Homo sapiens: one gene and its partners. The protein of the gene in region 1 interacts with the protein of each later gene in a biochemical or structural test. Each region holds a gene or a part of one and is shown on either strand. Other genes may lie near its edges. The genes, in order: MYOG, CSRP3, MEF2A, SP1, FBXO7 and MEF2C.

Region 1 (4,212 bases):
AACAATGGCAAAACCACACAATGCTTTGTTAACAAAAGAAATCACCCCCAAGAGGCCCCAACCCCTTTTCCCTGCCTGTCCCCGGCAACTTCAGCACAGGAGACCTTGGTCGGATGGCAGCTTTACAAACAACACACGAAACAAAACAAAACATAAAACCACTGGAAGGTTCCCAATATTCACTGCAAAAGTTTGGCCCCCCAGGGACTTGGGAACAGAGGGCTGTTCCTCTCCCCTTCTTCTCTCTCAATTCAGGGCAGGCCCAGCCCAGCCACTGGCATCGGGAAGAGACCAGAACAGGAGACGTGCACAGCTTGTCCAGGTCAGGGCACTGCGTCTCTCAAACCGTTTCACTTGGGGGGTGGAATTAGAGGCCGCGTTATGATAAAAAGGAAGCTCCTGAGTTTGCCCCCTGAGCTGGGGCATACACGAGGGGGCGCTCTGGTCCCCTGCTTTACCTCCCTGGAAAGGGGATGCCCTCTCCTCTAAGGAGGCAGCTGAATGAGGGCGTCCAGTCCCTTGCTGGGGGGTGGGTTAACCTTACATGGATGAGGAAGGGGATAGTCTGGCCTATGGCACCCCAGAGCTGGCTTCCTAGCATCAGGGCAGCCTGGCTTAGGAGGCCCCTGCTACAGAAGTAGTGGCATCTGTGGCCAGCTTGGGGGGCTCGCAAGGATGCCCGGCTTGGAAGACAATCTCAGTTGGGCATGGTTTCATCTGGGAAGGCCACAGACACATCTTCCACTGTGATGCTGTCCACGATGGAGGTGAGGGAGTGCAGGTTGTGGGCATCTGTAGGGTCAGCCGTGAGCAGATGATCTGTAAGGGGAGGTGGGAAGGTGGTACCTGGGTGAGCAGTGGGGGTTCTTGAGGCCCAGAATAGAGGATGGGACCCTTGGGGTGACAGAGGTTTTCCAGGACAGATGAATGACAAAGCTCCGGAGTTCTACTCCCTAGTCCCTGCCTTTCCCCATGCTCTGTGAGTGTGTGTGTGTGTGTGTGTGTGTGTGTGTGTGTGTGTATGCGCCTCTTTTCTGAACTCCCCTAGTAGGTAGGGTTTGGAAGCAGCCACTCAAGTTGGAGCAGGATGGAGCTCCCCAGAGACTGGACCTGCCCTTTGCTCGGCCCAGTTTTGCAGCACTGACTCAGCACTTCACAGGGACCCCTGGGGCAGGGACATTGTCCTCTCTGTGGAGAAGGTCAACCACCAGGCATCAGCTGGGGAGCTGCAGGAGCTACTATCACTCCTTTGCTGGTCAAGACTGCAGGGGCACACAGAACCTCCCAGCCCACCCTTTGGGCCTTGGAGTCAGCAGGTCCCTAGAGAGACCCAAGGGAAGAGGACCGGAGCAAGGAATAAGGTAAGAGGGGAGAACCTGGCCCAGGGAGGGACTGAGGGATTGGAGCCAAGGTTACCAGTCAGGCCTTACTTACCCCCTGGGTTGGCGCTGAACTCCAGTGCACTGCCCCACTCTGGACTGCAGGAGGCGCTGTGAGAGCTGCATTCGCTGGGCACCTGCAAGACAGGGCGAAGGCCCAAGGTCGGGGCACAGCCATTCTTTGATGTCTCTCTCTGCCTAGTCCCAGTGGGCAGAAGTACCTGTGGTGGGGTTGGAGGGTGGGCCACAGGCTGTGGCCTTCCAGCCCAGGCCATCCCCAACCCCAGAATCTTTGTAACTAGCTCCTCTCACACCCCAGAGGCCCTGCTTCCAGGCCTTCCTGGCTTCCATCCTGGGTGGTGGTTCTGCTCTCACAGGACACCAGCTTAAAGGGGTCCCTGGTTCTCCTGACTCTGGCGATAAGGGTGATGGAGACAGATTTTGTGGCCCAGTGAAGGTCGCTCTGTGCAGGCCTGCTGGAGTTCCAATGAGACTGAGTGGGTTTTCTCTCTGCTCAGCCACACCCAGGATGGGGGCAAAGCAGTCTTCTCTGGTGAACTTGGCCTGGCCTTTTAGGCTCTGACTCAGGCGCTGGGATTAATCCTCACCCTCACCTGGGCTGACTGTGGCCTTGCTCCTGATCTTTCTTCAGTCCTATGTTCCCCACCCCAACCCCTTCTGCACTTCCTCCCCACTGCCTTTATCTTGTCTGGAAAGAACACAGGACACAGGAGGTCAGCTGGATAGCCCAGCTCTGACCAGGGAAGGGCTCCTGCAGCCCCTCGACCCTGTCTGGCACCTGCACCAACCCTCTGAGCCCCTCTTGGGGTCTTGAGGCTGTCCAGGTGCCTCCCTCTGGCCCCGTCCCCTTGGGGCAGGGGGATGGGATGGCCACTTACCCCTGGCTGGGGCCCGCCCCCGCCCCGGTAGCGGAGGTCACGCTCCTCCTGGTTGAGGGAGCTGAGCAGGGCCTGGAGGCGCTCGATGTACTGGATGGCACTGCGCAGGATCTCCACCTTGGGCAGCCGCTGGTTGGGGTTGAGCAGGGTGCTTCTCTTCAGGGCCTCGAAGGCCTCATTCACCTTCTTGAGCCTGCGCTTCTCCCTCAGTGTGGCCGCCCGCCGCCGGTCCACGGACACCGACTTCCTCTTACACACCTTACACGCCCACGGCAGGCACTGGCCTGGACAGTGCTCGGGGGTCCCCAGCCCCTTGTCCTCAAGGGGCCCTGGGGCCTCGGGGCTCAGGGTGAGCTCCGTCCGCTCGTAGCCTGGTGGTTCGAAGCCCTGGAGGTGGACAGGCAGGTAGTTTTCCCCATCATAGAAGCGGGGTTCCTGGTAGAAGTAGGGGGATGTCTCATACAGCTCCATGGGGTCGGAAAAGGCTTGTTCCTGCCACCAGCCCCCAAGCTCCAGCAGCCCCTCACGCCAACTGCTGGGTGCCATTTAAACCCTCCCCGCTGGCATGGAACCAGAGATAAATATAGCCAACGCCACAGAAACCTGAGCCCCCTCTAAGCTGTTGCTGCACATCAAGGCGTTTACAGTGGATTAGATGTGATTCCCCTTCTTTCTCCCGCATGGCCCCCACCCCACCCTGCCAGCCTGCCCCTGGCCCAGGCGGGCTCCTGTGCACGGGTCGGGAGGCCGTCGGGTGTAATTTGATTAGTTTTCATTTCTCAGCAGCCCCTGTGGGGCAGGGGCGTTGGGGGAGGACACATTCCCCTCTCATCTGCTCCTTTCAATTACTCCTAGCTGGGCGGCCTGCCTGCTGTCTCCTTGCAGTCCCGAAGAAGCTGGTGGGTATAGGGGGAGGAGGGAACAAGGAAGGGTAGGCTTAGGCTGGAAGGGGCCTTAAGAGCCAACTTATCCATCTCCTTGCTTCCTGACAGCACCTTAACCACACTACATCAGTCGATGAGACTCTTTTAAAGACTTCCCTCCGGAAAGAATGGGACTGCTTCAGATTCTGGGCATTCATGGGCACTCAGTATCCAGGGATAAGAAGGATCAAGACTCAGAGCAGCTAACAGATTCCACTTTTGGGGTTCCCAAGCAGCTTTGAGCTGTATGTTCTCTTAGGTCTCATCTGGGGGGGTAAATTGAGGCAAGAGAAATTATTTGGGTTTTGGTTTTCTTGGCAGGGGTAAAGAGAAATTTCCTCTTTAATACAGCAGCCGTGGTCAGAGCAGAGATTAGAATTTACAGCCTACACGTTGCCACCTTCCCCAGAGCGGCAAGGTCAAGATGTCCTAAGCTCCCTGTCTCCTCCCTGTCTCACTCCGGACCATTGATCTGTCCTTCTATGTTACCTCCTCAACTCTTTTTCCAACACCAGAATTTTCCTGGCTCATTAATGTGGACGGGGGTGAAAAAGTAGAAAAAACAGAGCCCTTCAAACTCAGTTTAAATCTCCTCTCTCCTTGGCCACCGGGCTTGGTTGTTCTGCCTCTTACTGTCTGAGCCATCAATTTTACACGTATCATGCAGGTCTCAAATGTCAGGTAGAGCAGGGACTATTTAATCTTCAGGCCTCTCAGGCCATGGTCACCTCTCAGTAGGTGCCTCAGGGTCTGAGAGGACAAATTCCTTCCAATGCAGTGGGCAGACCTTAGACACTAGCAGTGAACAAGGCTCAGTCTTAGGGCTGGGGATTATAGGGACACCCCAGACAGGATCCCTGCCCTCGAACTTACCATCTGATAGACAACGGTGATCACCTCTTTCTACCTAGCCCCTGATGCCCAAATCTCCTCCGAGGCGGCTACTGTTCAGCTTCTGCTCACGTCAGGAGACAGCCCGTTCCATTGACGTGTAGCTTTGGGCTGCAATCT
Region 2 (3,500 bases), on another chromosome or scaffold:
ACATTTGTGGACTCCAGACTCTTCCCACAGATGGCACAGCGGAAACAGGTCTTGTGCCAAGGCTGAGGGGCACAGAAAAGTTGCATATTTAATGAGGTAGGCAACACATTCTGTTTCCATTTCAAGTCCCTGACCAGCAGCATCCAGAGGAGTGACACGTCTTAACCATTTGCTTACCTAATGGGCCCCATAATTTCTCCAGGGGTTTGGAGAAAATGAGATGCTATGGCCTTAGCCAGCACTTCTCAGAAGCCTGAAAATGGATTTGTCATGGTGATTTGCATATGTTTTCCTTCAGAATAGACTAAACGGGAAAGGGCTTCCCCAGGCCAAAAAGATCCAAGGAACAAACTGGTCAGAGAAGGACTTGGGCTGGGGGCACTGGGTGATGTTTATGTTGAGTATAAAGTTACAGAAGGAAAAAAAATAAAGAAATCAGGCAATTGTTCAGGGAATTCAACCTTGTTTTAACTCTCTGGTTTAATTCCTCTGTGTAATTCTGAGGCAGAGTTGCATAATTTCGATGTTCTAGATCTCCATCCTCCTGCACATCTGCGTGTCTACCAGGTACAGCCCAGGGCTTCTCCTATGTCTTCAAATGGCCAGTTTTAGGGTGGAGCCTGCCCTTGTGTTTGAAGTTAGATGCTCCCCACGGCCCTTCCTCCCACCATGTGGTATAAACATAATTTTTCTCTTTCCTCAGGTCTGACTCCTTTGGTGAGTACCCAGGCTTTGGGCCTGAAACTGGAACTTGCAGAGCACATATGCATGAGTGTCTCGGACATCTGATGACTTTCCTGAGAGCCAGGAAGTTCGTAAGTGAGGATGCTTCTCACTACTGTGAGGCGTCTGCTATATCCATTGGTCATGGTGGCAGCAACAGGTTGAGTTAGGCAGTGGTTGGTCTGGGGCTGACATCTTTTGGGGGGATTGTGGACACTGGAGGGTAGACGGGCTTTTGCTTTGTATCCCAGAACTTTCAGCTGGGTGCCTTCCATCTAGTAGAATAATGCTTGCTGCTTCAAACTGCACCAGTTCCAGCTTTCAAAGGGCAATGCTAGATGACAGACAGCCCCAGCCTGGGAAAGTGGCTGAGGATGTGTGGTTTCTAAAGTTGTTCTGGGAGCTAGAGAGAATGACAGCTGCTTGCAGCTCCCAATTTTTCTCTCATTCCTCCCAAATGGCCTGGTGGAGATGAGCAAATTCTGTCTGGCTCATACAGAAGGTCTTACCTTGCCACCTCCCATAACCTTCTCAGCAGCATAGACTGACTTGCCACATCGAGGGCACTTCTCGGACTCTCCAAACTTCGCAGTGAATTTGGAAGGGTTGCTGGTGGTAACTGAGCGTGCCGGCTTTGGGGACCTGTTGGAAATAGACGAATGAATGAAACGTAGATTTCCCTTGGCAAAGAGTAGAAGAGCTGTGTGGCCTTGAGAAAGTGACCTCACTTCCGTGTGTCTCAGACTCCTCATCTGGAAAATGGGGATAATGATGGTGTCTTTCTCATAGCGTTGTTGAGAGGGTTAAATGAGGCGACATTTGTAAAGCACTTAGAACAGTGCCCGCCTGGCATGTAGTAAGGGCTAATAAATGTTTGCTAAAATGGGTTTAGAGCTTTCCTTTTTGTTGTGAAGCACTTAGCAAATGTTCTAGTTATGTTAGCTTGTGTTATTGTTGTTGTTGTGTTGTTATTACTACTGTGCTTATTTGTGTTTTTCTGGACCATTTGCAAGGCCACTTCTTTCCTTTCTAAAGAGAGTTGTGAAAATTACAGAGCAAGGTGGGATTTTGACAATGGGTGCTAATCAGTTCCTGATGAACCACAGTCCATGAGCTGATGCATTCCTTATCACAAGCCAGGCTGTCGTCCTGCCTCCAAGGGTCACCTGTCCCAGGAGAACAATGTCCAAAATAGAGACATAATAATAGCCTCTCATGTGTTGGTATCTTTTGGTGTTTGCTTGTATATTATATCACTTGAGCTGTACCACAACCCTATAAGGTAGGCAGGGCTGGTTGGAGGAGAGTGAGGATCAGAGTGTGACTGCCCAAGGCCAGGCAGCTCATGAATGATGGACCTAGGAGGAAATCCTAGGTCTTCAGACCTTGTTACTCTTTGTGCAGCATCACTAGGAAGCCCTAATGTTGAAAAGTGAACTTCAGTCAATGTGAGGCAGAGAATGCAGTGGTATGTTTTCTTCCTTAACAAGAGTCTCCATTTGAGATTGAGTAATAAGACAAACTAACAAAAAGAAGTCTTCTCTCTAAGATGACTAATCACACATCTCTCCACGTTTCCATGCTCTCCTGTGGCTTACTCTCTTTTGAAGGGATCAGCTGATTCCTCAGATGGCTGAAGTGCTCTCTGGGGGAGGCCCTCCATGGGACACTTCCTTGGTTGGGCTGGGCCTTTCTGGCCAGTCGCAGTGCAGAGCTCAGCCTGGAGGCCAGCTGGCCAGAGAGTAGTGTCAGGCCAGTGGCCATCAGACTTTCCTCAATTCTGGGCTGGAGGTCAATGTGGTTATCAAGAAAGTGGACCCAGGGGACCAGACTGGTGGATGGAGGTGGCCAGAGTGATGTCCCAGCTTCCCTAGGATAATGTGGCGGGAACTCTAGCACTGTATTGGCAACAGGCAGCCAGGGAACCCCCAGAAAAATCATGATTGATTGTTTACTCTGAGGCACAGCCCATCCTTGCAGACACACTCCCCCTGCCATGTGGACGTTTGTCATCTTACAATCCAAGGGAAGAAATCTTTTCATGACAGGCACACAAAGAATGGCCATTGCTGCCCTGCCATATTTGTGTGATTTACACAGAAACTCTCAACGGGGAAGAAAGGAGACTCCATGCAGTTTTGCAAAGGTCAAACAATGGAACATCTGTACATCCTGGGTTTTCTCTTGACATGCAAACCAAGAGCCATGGTGTAAAAGTAATTGCCCTTTAGAATGGCAAATAATTTAAAGAGAGTCTTTGGAGAGATGACACATTGTTCAAACTTGGTCAGACTGAGTATTCCTATTGTTGGCAAGTCAACAATAGAGTCCATTCTCCCACTTCCAGAAAACGTTGCTATGGGAACGAAATGAACTGTCCTGATAATTGGAGACTTTAACAGGCAAGGGGGAGCAGGGCAGTAACTCACTGTTGGAACTGCAGGCCGAGATGCTCGCCCGTGTCTGTGCTGAGACAGCCAGCGCCTTGTCCATACCCGATCCCTTTGGGGCCATATCTGCGCCCATAGCACACCTTGCAGTAGATCTCCGACTCATGAGCCGCGACTGTCGTGCTGTCAAGAGCCTTCCTGCAGGCCACTGCCAGGAAAAGGAAGGGTCATGGGATTGGAATTGAAATCCTTCTCCCCTTCTTTGCACTCCCAATGCCATGCTCGGGGCCAGAGACCCAGCATGAGGGGCCCCTGAGCCAAGAATACAATGTTGATTCCTGACCAGAGTATCTGCCCTGAGTTGTGCACTCCAAGACAGTCCCGATC
Region 3 (3,500 bases), on another chromosome or scaffold:
AAGCAATAACTAAACAAACCAGGTATACACAAATTACAATTGTCTTGAAGGAAATAATCTGTGTAAGAGAGTAAAATGACAGACTGCAATATTAAATAGGATGGTCAGATTAGGCCTCTGAGTGAGAAGTGAGATTTGGGCCAAACTCCAAAGTGTTTAGCCAAGCCAGACATTTGAAGAATATCCCAAGGAGGGAGTACAGAAAGTGCAAAAGGCCCTAGAAGAAAAAAGGGTGCAGAGGGTTTAAGAAACACTGAGAGGCCTTCGTGGCTGACATGTGATGAATGAGGGGAAGAATGATGAGAAGGAGAAAGCTCATTCAGGGCCATTTAGGCCACAGAATGGAGGACTTGATTTTGAGAGGAATGGGAAGTCACCAGAAGATTTTAAGCAGAGAAATGATATGATCCAATATAGGCTCTTAAAATAATTCTCAGGCTGCTGTGTGAAGAAAAAAAAAAAAAAAAAAACTTCTATGGAGCAAGAAGAAAAAGAAGCAGCCCACTTAGAAAATTACTGCAGTACTTCATGCAAGAGAATGATGGCTTCAAATAAAGAGGTGGCAACGAAGACTAAGAGCAGTGGACTGCTCAAGGCAAATTGTGAAGGTGCAACAGGACGTGGGGATGGATTGGACTTAAGAGAAATGGAAAGAATCAAGAATAATATCTTAAGTTTTTGGCTTGGGTACTGCCATTTATGGATATGGGGAATGCCAGCAGAGACACCAGGGTTTAGGGGTAGGAAGAAGGTTGGGGGAAGAGGGAAAAATAGCTATATTTTACCCACATCATTTATATTATACTTGAGATTCCAACTAGACTTCCAAGTGAATATCAAACTCAAGAGAAGTCTGGGCTGGGAAAATAAAAGTAGTAGTCATCAGTATGAAAACATATGGCCTTTTCAGATTAGCGCTAATAGCTGGCTTTGACTAGGGCATAGAAACTGAAAGGTGATGGCTGAAAATGAGCCTCAAAAGACACGATGGAATCATATTATAAAGTGAGCCATGACTAACAGCAATAGCAGTAGTAGTAACGATAGTAATGGTAGGAGGAAAATTAATGCAGGTTATATACCAGGCACTGCACTTTATAATACACACCTCATTTAATCCTCTCAAAAACTGTATGAAATAATGTTATAATTACTATTTTATACACTAAGCCTCAAAAATCATAAGAACTTGCTGAAGAACACAAAGTGCAAGTAACTAAATAAGAACACAGTAAGAACAGTGGGTATTTTAACTTAGGATGGGAAGTCTGTTGTTGTTGTTGTTGTTTTTTTTTTTTTGGAGATGGAGTCTCATTCTATCACCCAGGCTGGAGTGCAGTGGCACGATCTCGGCTCACTGCAACCTCTGCCTCCTGGGTTCAAGCGATTCTCGTGCCTAAGCCTCCAGAGTGGCGGGATAACAGGTGTGAGCCACTATGCCCGGCTAATTTTTGTATTTTTAGTGGAAACGGGGTTTCACCACGTTGGCCAGGTTGGTCTCAAACTCCCGACCTCAGGTGATCTGCCCGCCTCCACCTCCCAAAGTTCTGGAATTACAGGCATGAGCCACCGCGCCCAGCCAGGAAGTCTGATTTTACAGGCCAATCTTCTATCCCTTACATTACTGCCACTCTATTGATCTCATACGCCTTCAAAAGTTGTTTTTTTTTTTTTCTTTAAGAAGAAATGACATATAGATCTGAATTTTAGAAATATAATTCCAATTTCTATGTAGAAGATGGACAGCTAAGGATGAGGACGAGAGGTGAAACAGGCAAATATAGTATTAGTCAATGCAAGAGCCGCTTGTTTTATTAAGCCCAAAAGTTACAATTTCTTTTACCAGGTCGAATGGGAAGCAGCCCTTTGTTCCAAGTGTCACAAATCATGCCTCAAATGAATCCACGTCAACCTGCACATGCATGCTGCTGGTCACGCAAGTAACAAAGTAAAAATGTCCAGCTCATGCAGTATAAACTTACTGACCACTACTGAAAACCTTTCTCAAGCATATAATTTTAATAATGGTGAGAATTTTTTTAAGTCCATATATTAAAGGTTTTTGTTTTGTTTTTGCTTTGTTTCCTTTTTATGTTTTCATGTTTTCTTGTTTATTTTGTTTTTGAAGTTTGTATTTTTGTGTAAGGAAGTAAAATTAGTATTAATTCAAGACAACCATAAAAAGACATGCCCGGGTTGGTATTTACTAGAAGTTTGATTAATTAATATGTTTTTCACCCATGTTTGTTCCTCTGGCTTTTATCAACATCACTTGTTAAAATAATGATGAAGTAAATTACCTGCCTTCATACACCAATGTTTAAATATGGTATTCCACCTCACAAAGGAGCTAATATTTTTAACTCATATGCTTATGATTTCATCTCGACTAAGATAATTAATAATTAAAATATTAAATTCAGTAAATATCAATTAAATTCTGTAAATATAAATATTATTAAAGTATAAAGCATCTATATAAAAATTTAGTACTTATTAAATAAGTACCAACCTATATCGTGTGCTATGTGTAAGATTTACTAATTAACAAATGGATTTACACTCTTAATTATAATAAACTGGACACAAGGTCCATTTATTATAAGGCACACAGATAAACTATACACGAGAAAATCATTAATTTCACACCAAATCAAAGTATTTTAAAAATTACAGATTAACTAAAGTTACTTTAAAATATTAAAATAACCTTCAATATTAAAATATTTAAAAACTTTTCTTCAGAAATTAAGCTATTTTAAAATACCTATTCAAGGTAGATTACAGAAGTATTCTTCTAACTTTAAATTTCAAATACTATATCTTAGAGACCACTCCCACAGTCAATCCCTAAAAGACAGAATTCACTGAAGATTGGGAAACTATTTATATTTAACTTGAATCTTTAGAAAAATATTTGGGGAGATTATGGAGATTAGAAACAAACTATGGTTGAAGATCAAAATTCTAATGTTTTAAAACAGCCAATTAAGCGTTTTATGTATAATCTGACAATGAATTTAAGATGCTGGGATATTTTATCCAAAACAAACACATTAAGCATTCTCTATTGATACATTATACGAAATCCTTTTGGTCACAAACACTAAACGTATGGGTACTGGGCAGGGTACCTACATAATCTTCAGAGGAAAGAAGAAACAAAAGCCAGAAGGGATGCAGGGAGATCAGGCAATACGCATTTTCGCACATGAAGCTTCACGCAGTGTGTTAGAACTTTTACACTCGCTATCTCATTTAATTCCAACACGGGGCAGGTAGTGTAATTCTATCTCATTTTACAGGAGATATCTCAACTCTGTCAGCAGTGGAGCTGGATCTGAATCAAGATCTGACTACAGAGTCAAGCAGCCTTCCTTTACTGGGGCTTGCAAATCAGCATATGTTAAAAGCATTCTCTTGCACGAGGTTATCCAGCTTAAAGGGTGATCTGATTTCCATATTTACACTTATTATTTAAACATTAGGAGAGAAGGCAC
Region 4 (3,500 bases), on another chromosome or scaffold:
TGTTGGCAAGACGGGCAATGCCCTCTGGACAGATGGCCTCCATGGCTACCATATTGGTGGTAATAAGGGCTGAAGGAGTGGCAGTGCCACTGCCTTCTGAACCTGCCCCACTGTCCAGGGGCAAAGTGCCCACACTCAGAGCTACACCTGGGCCTCCCTTCTTATTCTGGTGGGTCTTGATATGTTTTGACAGGTGGTCACTCCTCATGAAGCGCTTAGGACACTCAGGGCAGGCAAATTTCTTCTCACCTAGGTAAAGGAAGAAAAGATAAGAAGCTGACATGTTAGGAAGTGAGGTTACCTTACCCAATTCAGTGCTTACTCTACTAAGCTGAGTAAGGCCAGTATGAGAAGGTGATCAAAAACAAGAAAAATCTTCAAGTGGCTGGGCGTGGTGGCTCACGCTTGTAATCCCAGCACTTTGGGAGGCCAAGGCGGGCAGATCACGAGGTCAGGAGATCAAGACCACGGTGAAACCCTGTCTCTACTAAAAATACAAAAAATTAGCCGGGCGTGGTGGCGGGCGCCTGTAGTCCCAGCTACTCGGAGAGGCTGAGGCAGGAGAATGGCGTGGACCCGGGAGGCGGAGCTTGCAGTGAGCCGAGATCGCGCCACTGCACTCCAGCCTGGGCGACAGAGACTCTGTCTCAAAAAAAAAACAAAAAACAAAAAACTTCAAGTATATTTTCCTTTTGGCGGGGGCGTGAGGAAGAAAACTAGATAAAGGTTGGGGAGTACTCGGTAAGGAAGGTAGAACTTAGCAGTTTTAAAAGTAAGGCAGGGCAGAGACTAAGAGTAATGGTTTCAATGCTTCACCTTCAAAAATCCCACTCAAAATCTAGCTCCTTATTTTATTTTATTTTATTTTTTTGAGACAGAGTCTTGCTCTGTCGCCTAGGCTGGAGTGCAGTGGCACAATCTCAGCTCACTGTAACCTCCGCCTCCAAGGTTCAAGCAATTCTCCTGCCTCAGCCTCCTGAGTAGCTGGGATTACAGGTGTGCACCAGCACGCTTGACTATTTTGTAATTTTAGTAGAGACAGGGTTTCCCCATGTTGGCCAGGCTGGTCTTGAACTCCTGACCTCAAGAAATCCACCCACCTCGGCCTCCCAAAGGGCTGGGATTACAGGCATGAGCCACGACACCTGGCTCCTTCCTTTTTTTTTGAGACAGTGTCTCGCTCTGTCGCCCAGGCTGGAGTGCAGTGGCACGATCTTGGCTCATTGCAAGCTCCGCCTCCCAGGTTCATGCCACTCTCCTGCCTCCACCTCCTGAGTAGCTGCAACTACAGGCGCCTGCCACCATGCCCGGCTAATTTTTTTGTATATTTAGTAGAGACGGGGTTTCACCATGTTAGCCAGAATGGTCTCGATCTCCTGACCTCGTGATCTGCCCGCCTCGGCCTCCAAAAGTGCTGGGATTACAGGCGTGAGCCACTGCACCCAGCCCCTCCTTCCTTCTTAAAAATTTTCCAGATTAACTCCAATTCCATTTGTGACCCATATATTCAGTTTCAAATTAAGTTGCTCAGAAATTTTAGTTATTTTGTAGGTATATTTTGTGTTTTTCATTCTAGTCTATTACTATTTTTCTCTCCCATAGGCTCTTGCTCACCTGTGTGTGTACGTTTGTGCCTCTGTAGCTCATCCGAACGTGTGAAGCGTTTCCCACAGTATGACCAGGTACACATAAATGGCCTCTCGCCTGTATGCCAGCGCAAGTGTGCCCGCAGGTGAGAGGTCTTGCCATACACTTTCCCACAGCCTTGGATGTGGCAAATATGCTGTTTCTTTTTGCCAGGATCCCCCGAGCCCCTGAAAGTGAGGACACAACTGTTAATCATTCATTCTAGAGAAAACTAAAGAACCACAAAGTATCAACAGCAATCACCCAATCGACACCAAACTAACCCAAACTTTTATTTTTTGAAAAAGTCTTCTTTTTTGTTTTTTTGAGAGAGTCTCACTCTGTCGTCCAGGCTGGAGTACAGTAGCATGATCACGGCTCACTGCAACCTCCGCCTCCTAGGTTCAAGCGATTCTCCTGCCTCAGCCTCCCGAGTAGCTGGGATTACAGGTGCACACCACCATGCCCAGCTAATTTTTATATTTTTAGTGCAGATGAGGTTTCGCAATGTTGGCGAGGCTGGTCTCGAACCCCTGAGCTCAGGTGATGGATCTGCCCACCTCCGCCTCCCAAAGTACTGGGATTACAGGCGTGAGCCACTGCACTGGACCAAGGCTTCTTTTTTTTGTTCGTTTGTTTGTTTTGAGACGGAGTCTCGCTCTGTCGCCCAGGCTGGAGTGTAATAGCGCAATCTTGGCTCACTGCAACCTCCACCTCCCGGGTTCACGCCATTCTCCTGCCTCAGCCTCCCGAGTAGCTGGGACTATGGGTGCCCGCCACCACACCCGGCTAATTTTTTGTATTTTTAGTAGAGACGGGGTTTCACCATGTTAGCCAGGATGGTCTCGATCTCCTGACCTTGTGATCCACCCACCTCGGCCTCCCAAAGTGCTGGGATTACAGGCGTGAGCCACCGCACCCGGCCAAGCCTTCTTTTTTAAAAAGGTTTCTAGGGGCTGGGAGTGATGGCTCACGCCTGTAATCCCAACACTTTTGGAGGCCGAGGCAGGTGGATTGATCACCTGAGGTCAGGGATCCGAGACCAGCCTGGCCAACATGGCGAAACCTCATCTGTACTAAAAAATACAAAAATTGTTCAAGACCAGTCTTATCAACATGGTCCCCATCTCTACTAAAAATACAAAATTAGCCAGGCGTGGTGGCACATGCCTGTAATCCCAGCTACTTGGGAGGCTGAAGCAGAGGAATTGCTTGAACCTGGGAGGTGGAGGTTGCAGTGAGCCGAGATCGTGCCGTTGCACTCCAGCCTGGGCAACAAGAGCGAAGCTCTTTTTTTTTTTTTTGAGACAGAGTCTCACTCTGTCGCCCAGGCTAGAGTGTAACGGCACGATCTCGGTTCACTGCAACCTCCACCTCCCAAGTTCGAGCAATTCTCCTACCTCAACCTCCCAAGTAGCTGGGATTACAGGCACCTGACACCACGCCGGTTAATTTTTGTACTTTTAGTAGAGATGGGGTTTCACCATGTTGGCCAGGCTGGTCTTGTACTCCTGACCTCAGGTGATCCGCCCGCCTTGGCCTCCCAAAGTGCTGGGATTACAGGCGTGAGCCACCGTACCCGGATGAAGATCTGTCTTAAAAAAAAAAAAAGGCCGGGCGCCCCCATGGCTCATGCCTGTAATCCCAGCACTTTGGGAGGCCAAGGCAGGCGGATCACAAGGTCAGGAGATCGAGACCACCCTGGCTAACACGGTGAAACCCCGTCTCTACTAAAAATACAAAAAATTAGCTGGGCGAGGTGGCGGGCACCTGTAGTCCCAGCTACTAGGGAGGCTGAGGCAGGAGAATGGCGTGAACCCAGGGGGCGGAGCCTGCAGTGAGCCAAGATTGTGCCACTGCACTCCAGCCTGGGC
Region 5 (3,500 bases), on another chromosome or scaffold:
TTTATTGATGGTTAAGGGTGATCATTGCTGCTCTGTGCTACATGGTAATTCAATGCAGTGTGATTCCTCAGGGACTATGGAGGAACATGTGGCTACTCTCTTCCTGCATTAACTGGTCCTACACTACCTCTTCTCCCCCTAATCTCATTTAGGTGTGTCACCTGCTTCTAATCCAACATCTCACGTTACACCAAACTGGGCAACAACCTCTGAGCTTCTGTGTTACAGCCCACGTTCATTACTGGAGGTCAAGCTGACTTAGGCTTTCATCCATATTCTGGTTACACTACTTTCTCCCAACGATGTCCTGAATGACTCGGCTATCAGAAGCATGACCATAACTAAGTATTTTTTAATGTACTTATTTATTTGAAATATGTGAAATGAGGAAAGAGAAACCCATTCAACTTTAAGTATACAAAAGAGTTTGAATAAAAGATGATATCTTCTCTACAAGTTACTACATTAGCATGGAAGTAAGATTTATAAAAGCTCTAGCTCCGTAACATTTTATCTACAGAAAAATCTGAACAGCTTACAAATGAGCTTGTGGGCCACAATCTAAAAATTAAAGAATAATTGTGCTTTAATCCTAAACTTGAATATACAAGTGAAAGGGTATTTGTTGCTTTTATAAGTATTTATATCATACTCTGCTTTTTCTCGGTGCTTCCATATACATCAGTCATTCTGTCTTTTCTTTTTTTACTATATTTTCAATTCTTTTTTGAGTTGGAGACCAGCCTGAGCAACACTGCAAGACTTTGTCTCCACTAAAAACAAACAAACAAACAAACAAAAATTGGCCAGGTGTGGGGGCGCATGCCTACAGTTCTCAGCTACTTATGAGGCTGAGGAGGGAGGATCACTTGAGCCCAGGAGTTGGGGGTGGCAGTGAGCTATGACTGCGCCACTGCACTCCAGGGCAACACAACTAGACCCTGTCTCAAAAATACACAAATAAATAAAATTGAATTATTTTTTGAGATGATGCTTTCTTGCTGCCAATTGTGACAAAATAACATTTTAAATGTCAAATTCAGGGGCATAAATAAAGCAGAAAGAGGACCTCAGGAATCAAAGAAGAAGAAAAGGAACAAACCAGGTCATTTACACTTCTCACATTTTGAAATTTTAAAAGAAAAAAAAATTTTAGCAATCCAAATGACTCTACATGATATTCTTTTTTTTTTTTTTTTTTTTAAGGGAGCTATCTACCCACCACATTTTTACAGTTACTAAGGTGGTATGTGTTAACATCACATATAGCAGTATCATTCAAACATTTATGTGAACCACATAAAAATTTTACATTGCAACACAGTATACACCTACCTATACATAATTGAAATAGAAGTTTACTCCTATTTTATAAATAGGAATACTATTTATAAAATAAATATGGATTTTTCCATTGTGGGTTTTGTTTTTTTGTAACATGACCCATTAAATGGATTTCATGACCCACCCCAGGGTCAAACATTCTGAAAACACTAATATGTAGTAAAATGGTGGTAGCAGAAAAAAAAGTTCCACAATCAGGCTTTTGGCCTTGTAGCAGGAAATCCTGATGCACAAGTTCTACCATCATCACTGCCAAAATAATTACCAGGTCACCATAATGTGACCATACAGAAATAAAGCTACCCTAGCAACTTGGAACAGGTCAACAAAACTCTCCTAACTTACACATTGGTCTCAACCATGAAAGCAGTTCAGAAATGCCAGCTCGTTTCTACGTCAGATACTGACTATGGTCTCTAGTGAGAAAATAAGCCTGTTTTACTTCCATTTCTCTATCCTGAAATAATCTTCTTAGTCTAATGAGTGATTTGTGTTGTGCAAAACACAAAAATGAGAGAGTTTTAGGGACACAGGCACAGGTATATGAAGCTTAGAGTCAGTCTCTTTAAGGCTATTTATTGTAATCATTTGCAACAGAAAAATCCTACAACTAAAAACTTTTGGTGAGCTGAGTAATCAAGACAATAAGAGCCCTTTCTTGTGAATATGTCATTACGGAAATCACCTCGAAAATCACGCAGATATAAAAACCTCCACAGGAGTGGGTCATTTGAAGCAGTAAAGAGGTCACGACAAACCGCAGACAAAGACAAGACGGAACGAACATCCAGAAGTCGGAAGATCCGTAGTTTCAGTTCCAATGGGAGGACGACCAACCCAAATACATCTGGTAGGTTCAGTGCTAAAAGGAAAAAAAGAGAAGTAACAGGTATTACTGAGTAAAGAACATCTGGCTTTCTCCACATAGTCAACAAAGTTGCCACTTGTTCCTTTCTAAAGTGACAGAAAATTAGATGGTACTCTTAATTATCCCCAAGTATGCATCATCTACAACAAATTTTTAACCCCAGCTTGACTATAATTACTATTAACTCATATAACTCTAGGCCCTTATTCCCTTTATGTTTTAGTGGAAAGACAAATGCTTTTTAATATAAATCAAATAACTATGATAATTGCTAAATACTAGCCAATGGTCTCTTCTGTCTCAAACATTATTCAATACAACAAAATTTCTTCATTCAACTACAGAAAATGAATAATTCACTGGCTTTTATATCTGTTTCCATGCCAGTTATTAACTGTGTGCCTTTGGACAAGTTATTTAAATGCTATCTTAATTTCATCTGTAAAATGGATTAATATTACATTCCACCTACTTCAATGAGTTGTGAGAAGTAAATGTATTAACACATATTAAGTGCTTAGAACAATGTTTGGCACACCAAGCATAAGCACTCAAGTGTTAGCAAATTACTATTATCTGAAGTCTAGCAGGCTAAAAAGAGATAGATAAATTCAGAAACAAAGCCAAGAAAGGAAAGGAAAAATAATATGTCCCAAGTTCAATGAAAATTATGTTTTGGTTATTAGCACCTTCAAAATATTTGTGATACTATTCTCCACTAGCAAAAATAATCAAAATCCAACAGACATATCTACATGTTTTTCAATTGGCATTACTCCCTTTCCCTTATCACCAACTACAGAGAAGACTACTGTAATAATAGACATGCCACCATTCAACTTGACACCAAAAACGTTTTACTTATTTCTCTACATATAGAGAGCAAATAAAAGCCACTATCTATTCATATAAGTCAAACTACCTACTAGTTGGAGAATTGTGGTAGATTGTATTATGGTTCTCAATCACTTCCTACGCATAATTATACTTCCCCATCCCACCACCATCAGGCTTGGCCATTTTTGTCTTATTTTTTCTGACAAAACGTGAGTGGAAGTGACATATATAATTTCTGGGCAAAAGCGTTGAACCAACACATAATTGGGCCACTGGCACTCCTTTCCTTCTACTACAAGAGGAGCATGTCCTGGATAAAGACAACTCCTTCAGCCAAAGCAAACCCACACACAACATGTACACGAGTGAGAAGTAAATTTCACTGTAAGACACTGAGATTTTAATTTTTTTAACTGCAAAAAAATGAGAAGCTAATATAAGGATCTCGAGT
Region 6 (2,568 bases), on another chromosome or scaffold:
AAACTGTAAACTTTAACAATTCCTTATCTATCACCACTCCTACCATTAATCTAACCATTTACTGAATTCTGACAATTTTCTCTCTCCTAAATCTTTCAATTACTTGCTTAAACCTAACTCTTTTAAATTTGCGATTATATAATCAGAGGCAAACTAACTCTTCCAGTCTTGTCTCACTGCTCCCCTACACACGGCTACACTTTACGTAAATAGAAAGGCCCACAATTCCTGTAAGTTTGTCTCTTGCTTTCCCATCTCTGTACCTTTGTATCTACTATTTCTTCCCTGTGAAATGCCCACATCCAGGGATGGTGTCATGATTCCAGGGCCCAGTGCAGAATGAAAATGTGGAAGTCCTTGTTGAAAAAGTGAAATAAAAGGTTCTCTCTGTTAAAGGTACTAAAATATAAAACAGTTCACTTTTTCCTGTGTATCTCTTCTGTTCAGGCACATGCTCTATTGTCCTACAGGACTTTGCTTACAACATTCAAACTCAAATATAAAATTATTAAGGATAATTTTATTATCAGGATATTATCAGGATAATGATAGCAGAACACTAAACGAAACACAAGCTAGGGCCATATGTGACTGCAGGGGTCACATGCCCACAAACAGCTTTGAACTCATCCCCTTCTGGGCCTTTCTCAATCCTGCCCACCTTCAAAATCAAGTGAAAGGCTTCTGCTGGGTGGATGAGGAAGTGTCCATGCTCTGAGCCTCTGGTCTGCTCTGCCCCAGGATGGCCAAAGTGGCTCCCTCATAGCACTTTGTAGACTTCCCTGAGAATGCCTTTTATCTCCTATTAGTTTATAAGTTTCCTAAGAGAAAGGGCTACAACTTCATTCATCCTGGAATCACCACATGAGTTACATATAATAATTGCTTAATACATGTTTGCTGAAAATGAATACAAGAGAACAAAGCAGAAAGCACTGCTATTTTGAAGCCACATGCAACATTTCCTCGAACTGCATTCTTTTTGGAGCAGATATCACTACTAATGCAAAAGTCCAAGTTCTCCAGCTGGCTAACTGGTGGTGTCTTGTTTTCCTTTTCAGTTTTTAAATTAATCTTTCTATCAATCTTTTTAAGGACATTCCCCTTTAGAGATTATTATTGAATGTTAATAATGGATATATTTGATAGTCTCTAAAATGTATGAATTCACTAATTTATTCAGATTTATAAGCCTATGTTTTCAACTTTTAGAAATTACTTCGAAGAAGAAAAAAGGAACTCTTTTGGAAACACTTTCTACAGATTTTAGTTAAAAAATAACTTATGGTACTGCTTTTCACAGTGGCTTTTGAAAAATTCTGTACATTTAAACAGGTTATCAAAGATCTTCATGGAACTTCTTTGATAAAGAAGTTGAACCATTCAATAAGAACCTTAGACTTCCACCACTGGCTGAATTCTGTAATACCCTAAGAACCGTCATCCAATTCACACCCCTCCCACACAGACACACATATCCATCTTTTCATATAATATTTTGAGTTGAAAACTGAGAAAGCTCATTTGTGCTTGTGGCATAAGCTGCTTTTTAAAAAACACAATAAAATTGAATAAATTTAAACAGCAAAACATTAATTTAAAAAAATGCACCACGGACACTGCATCACTAAGAAAGCCAGTAACTTTACTGAATTGTCTGCAAAATACAAATTATACCTTATTTCCAGCAGGAGAAACTTTTGAAAATTTCCCACTTTTATTCACTACAGACAGCTGAATTAAGTCCCTTGAGATACACAGATGTGGTTTAACTTAGTTATAACATCTTGTCATCTAGTGGCGACAAAGTCCAGCTTATGCCGCTGTGAGCCTCTATTTGAATATTTGTTGCAAATGCTTGTATGCCCTCATTTACAAGCGATTTTAATTACTCTCATTTAATGGAAACAAGTCCCCAGGAAAAGAAAAAGAAGAAAAATGATACAGCAAACCATCTGAAGCAATCCAAGTCCTATGCCTACAGTGACCCAGGTCTACTTTGCTCGAAGAGAACACTGGTACTGCATTCAAACCACAACAGAATCCGTCACTTAACTGACCTCTCTGAATTAAACTGAGGTATGAATCAATTTGAGGTATGAACAGGGAAGGCAAAATGCAATACCAGATTATGAAAATAACCAAAATGGAAAAATTTGATGTAGAAGATATGTGGCTTGGATTGCTCCACATCTTTGGTTAAAACATATTAAGAAAAGCCTTTAATTACATCTGTAGTCTGAAGCATTCTAACAGACACCAGTATTCCAGCAATCTTCAAAAGATCTGTAGTGGCAGGAAATTAACGCCATAAAAGTGACGACATCACGGCAGATGGCACAAATGAGAACAGATGAAGTATGCCATGCTTAGGCAACAGCCTTTATTGAGGGTTCAAGTGGCTTCTTCTTCTTTAAAAAAAATGTTTTTTAAAGAAAGAACTACAAAGCGTTTACTCTCTGGAGAAACAAACAACAAAATAAAGAGGGCAAAAAATGCTATCTCTAAGTTAAAAGATGGGTATGTAAGAAAAACAAATCCATAAAAGTGTGTGAGGGCAGACATTCT

The links.
Region 2: the proteins of MYOG (region 1) and CSRP3 form a complex in vitro, tested with the Homo sapiens proteins (2 studies listed by BioGRID and IntAct, with this or other methods).
Region 3: the proteins of MYOG (region 1) and MEF2A form a complex in vitro, tested with the Homo sapiens proteins (one study listed by BioGRID).
Region 4: the proteins of MYOG (region 1) and SP1 form a complex in vitro, tested with the Homo sapiens proteins (one study listed by BioGRID).
Region 5: of the proteins of MYOG (region 1) and FBXO7, one has a biochemical effect on the other in vitro, tested with the Homo sapiens proteins (one large-scale study listed by BioGRID).
Region 6: the proteins of MYOG (region 1) and MEF2C form a complex in vitro, tested with the Homo sapiens proteins (one study listed by BioGRID).

The regions. Positions count from the first base shown.
Region 1 is NC_000001.11:203,083,213-203,087,424, forward strand, and holds the start of MYOG (myogenin), read right to left. Parts: upstream 2,801-4,212; 5' UTR 2,750-2,800; coding exon 2,279-2,749; intron 1,517-2,278; coding exon 1,435-1,516; intron 1,362-1,434; exon of another isoform or gene 1,160-1,361; intron 820-1,159; coding exon 698-819; 3' UTR 1-697. UniProt on the Homo sapiens protein: Acts as a transcriptional activator that promotes transcription of muscle-specific target genes and plays a role in muscle differentiation, cell cycle exit and muscle atrophy.
Region 2 is NC_000011.10:19,184,984-19,188,483, forward strand, and holds part of CSRP3 (cysteine and glycine-rich protein 3), read right to left. Parts: intron 3,322-3,500; coding exon 3,153-3,321; intron 1,366-3,152; coding exon 1,233-1,365; intron 63-1,232; coding exon 1-62. UniProt on the Homo sapiens protein: Positive regulator of myogenesis. Acts as a cofactor for myogenic bHLH transcription factors such as MYOD1, and probably MYOG and MYF6.
Region 3 is NC_000015.10:99,568,984-99,572,483, reverse strand, and holds part of MEF2A (myocyte-specific enhancer factor 2A), read right to left. Parts: intron 1-3,500. UniProt on the Homo sapiens protein: Transcriptional activator which binds specifically to the MEF2 element, 5'-YTA[AT](4)TAR-3', found in numerous muscle-specific genes. Also involved in the activation of numerous growth factor- and stress-induced genes.
Region 4 is NC_000012.12:53,407,676-53,411,175, reverse strand, and holds part of SP1 (transcription factor Sp1), read right to left. Parts: intron 1,815-3,500; coding exon 1,615-1,814; intron 250-1,614; coding exon 1-249. UniProt on the Homo sapiens protein: Transcription factor that can activate or repress transcription in response to physiological and pathological stimuli.
Region 5 is NC_000022.11:32,491,811-32,495,310, reverse strand, and holds part of FBXO7 (F-box only protein 7), read right to left. Parts: intron 2,207-3,500; coding exon 2,030-2,206; intron 1-2,029. UniProt on the Homo sapiens protein: Substrate recognition component of a SCF (SKP1-CUL1-F-box protein) E3 ubiquitin-protein ligase complex which mediates the ubiquitination and subsequent proteasomal degradation of target proteins and plays a role in several biological processes such as cell cycle, cell proliferation, or maintenance of chromosome stability.
Region 6 is NC_000005.10:88,716,617-88,719,184, forward strand, and holds the end of MEF2C (myocyte-specific enhancer factor 2C), read right to left. Parts: 3' UTR 501-2,568; downstream 1-500. UniProt on the Homo sapiens protein: Transcription activator which binds specifically to the MEF2 element present in the regulatory regions of many muscle-specific genes. Controls cardiac morphogenesis and myogenesis, and is also involved in vascular development.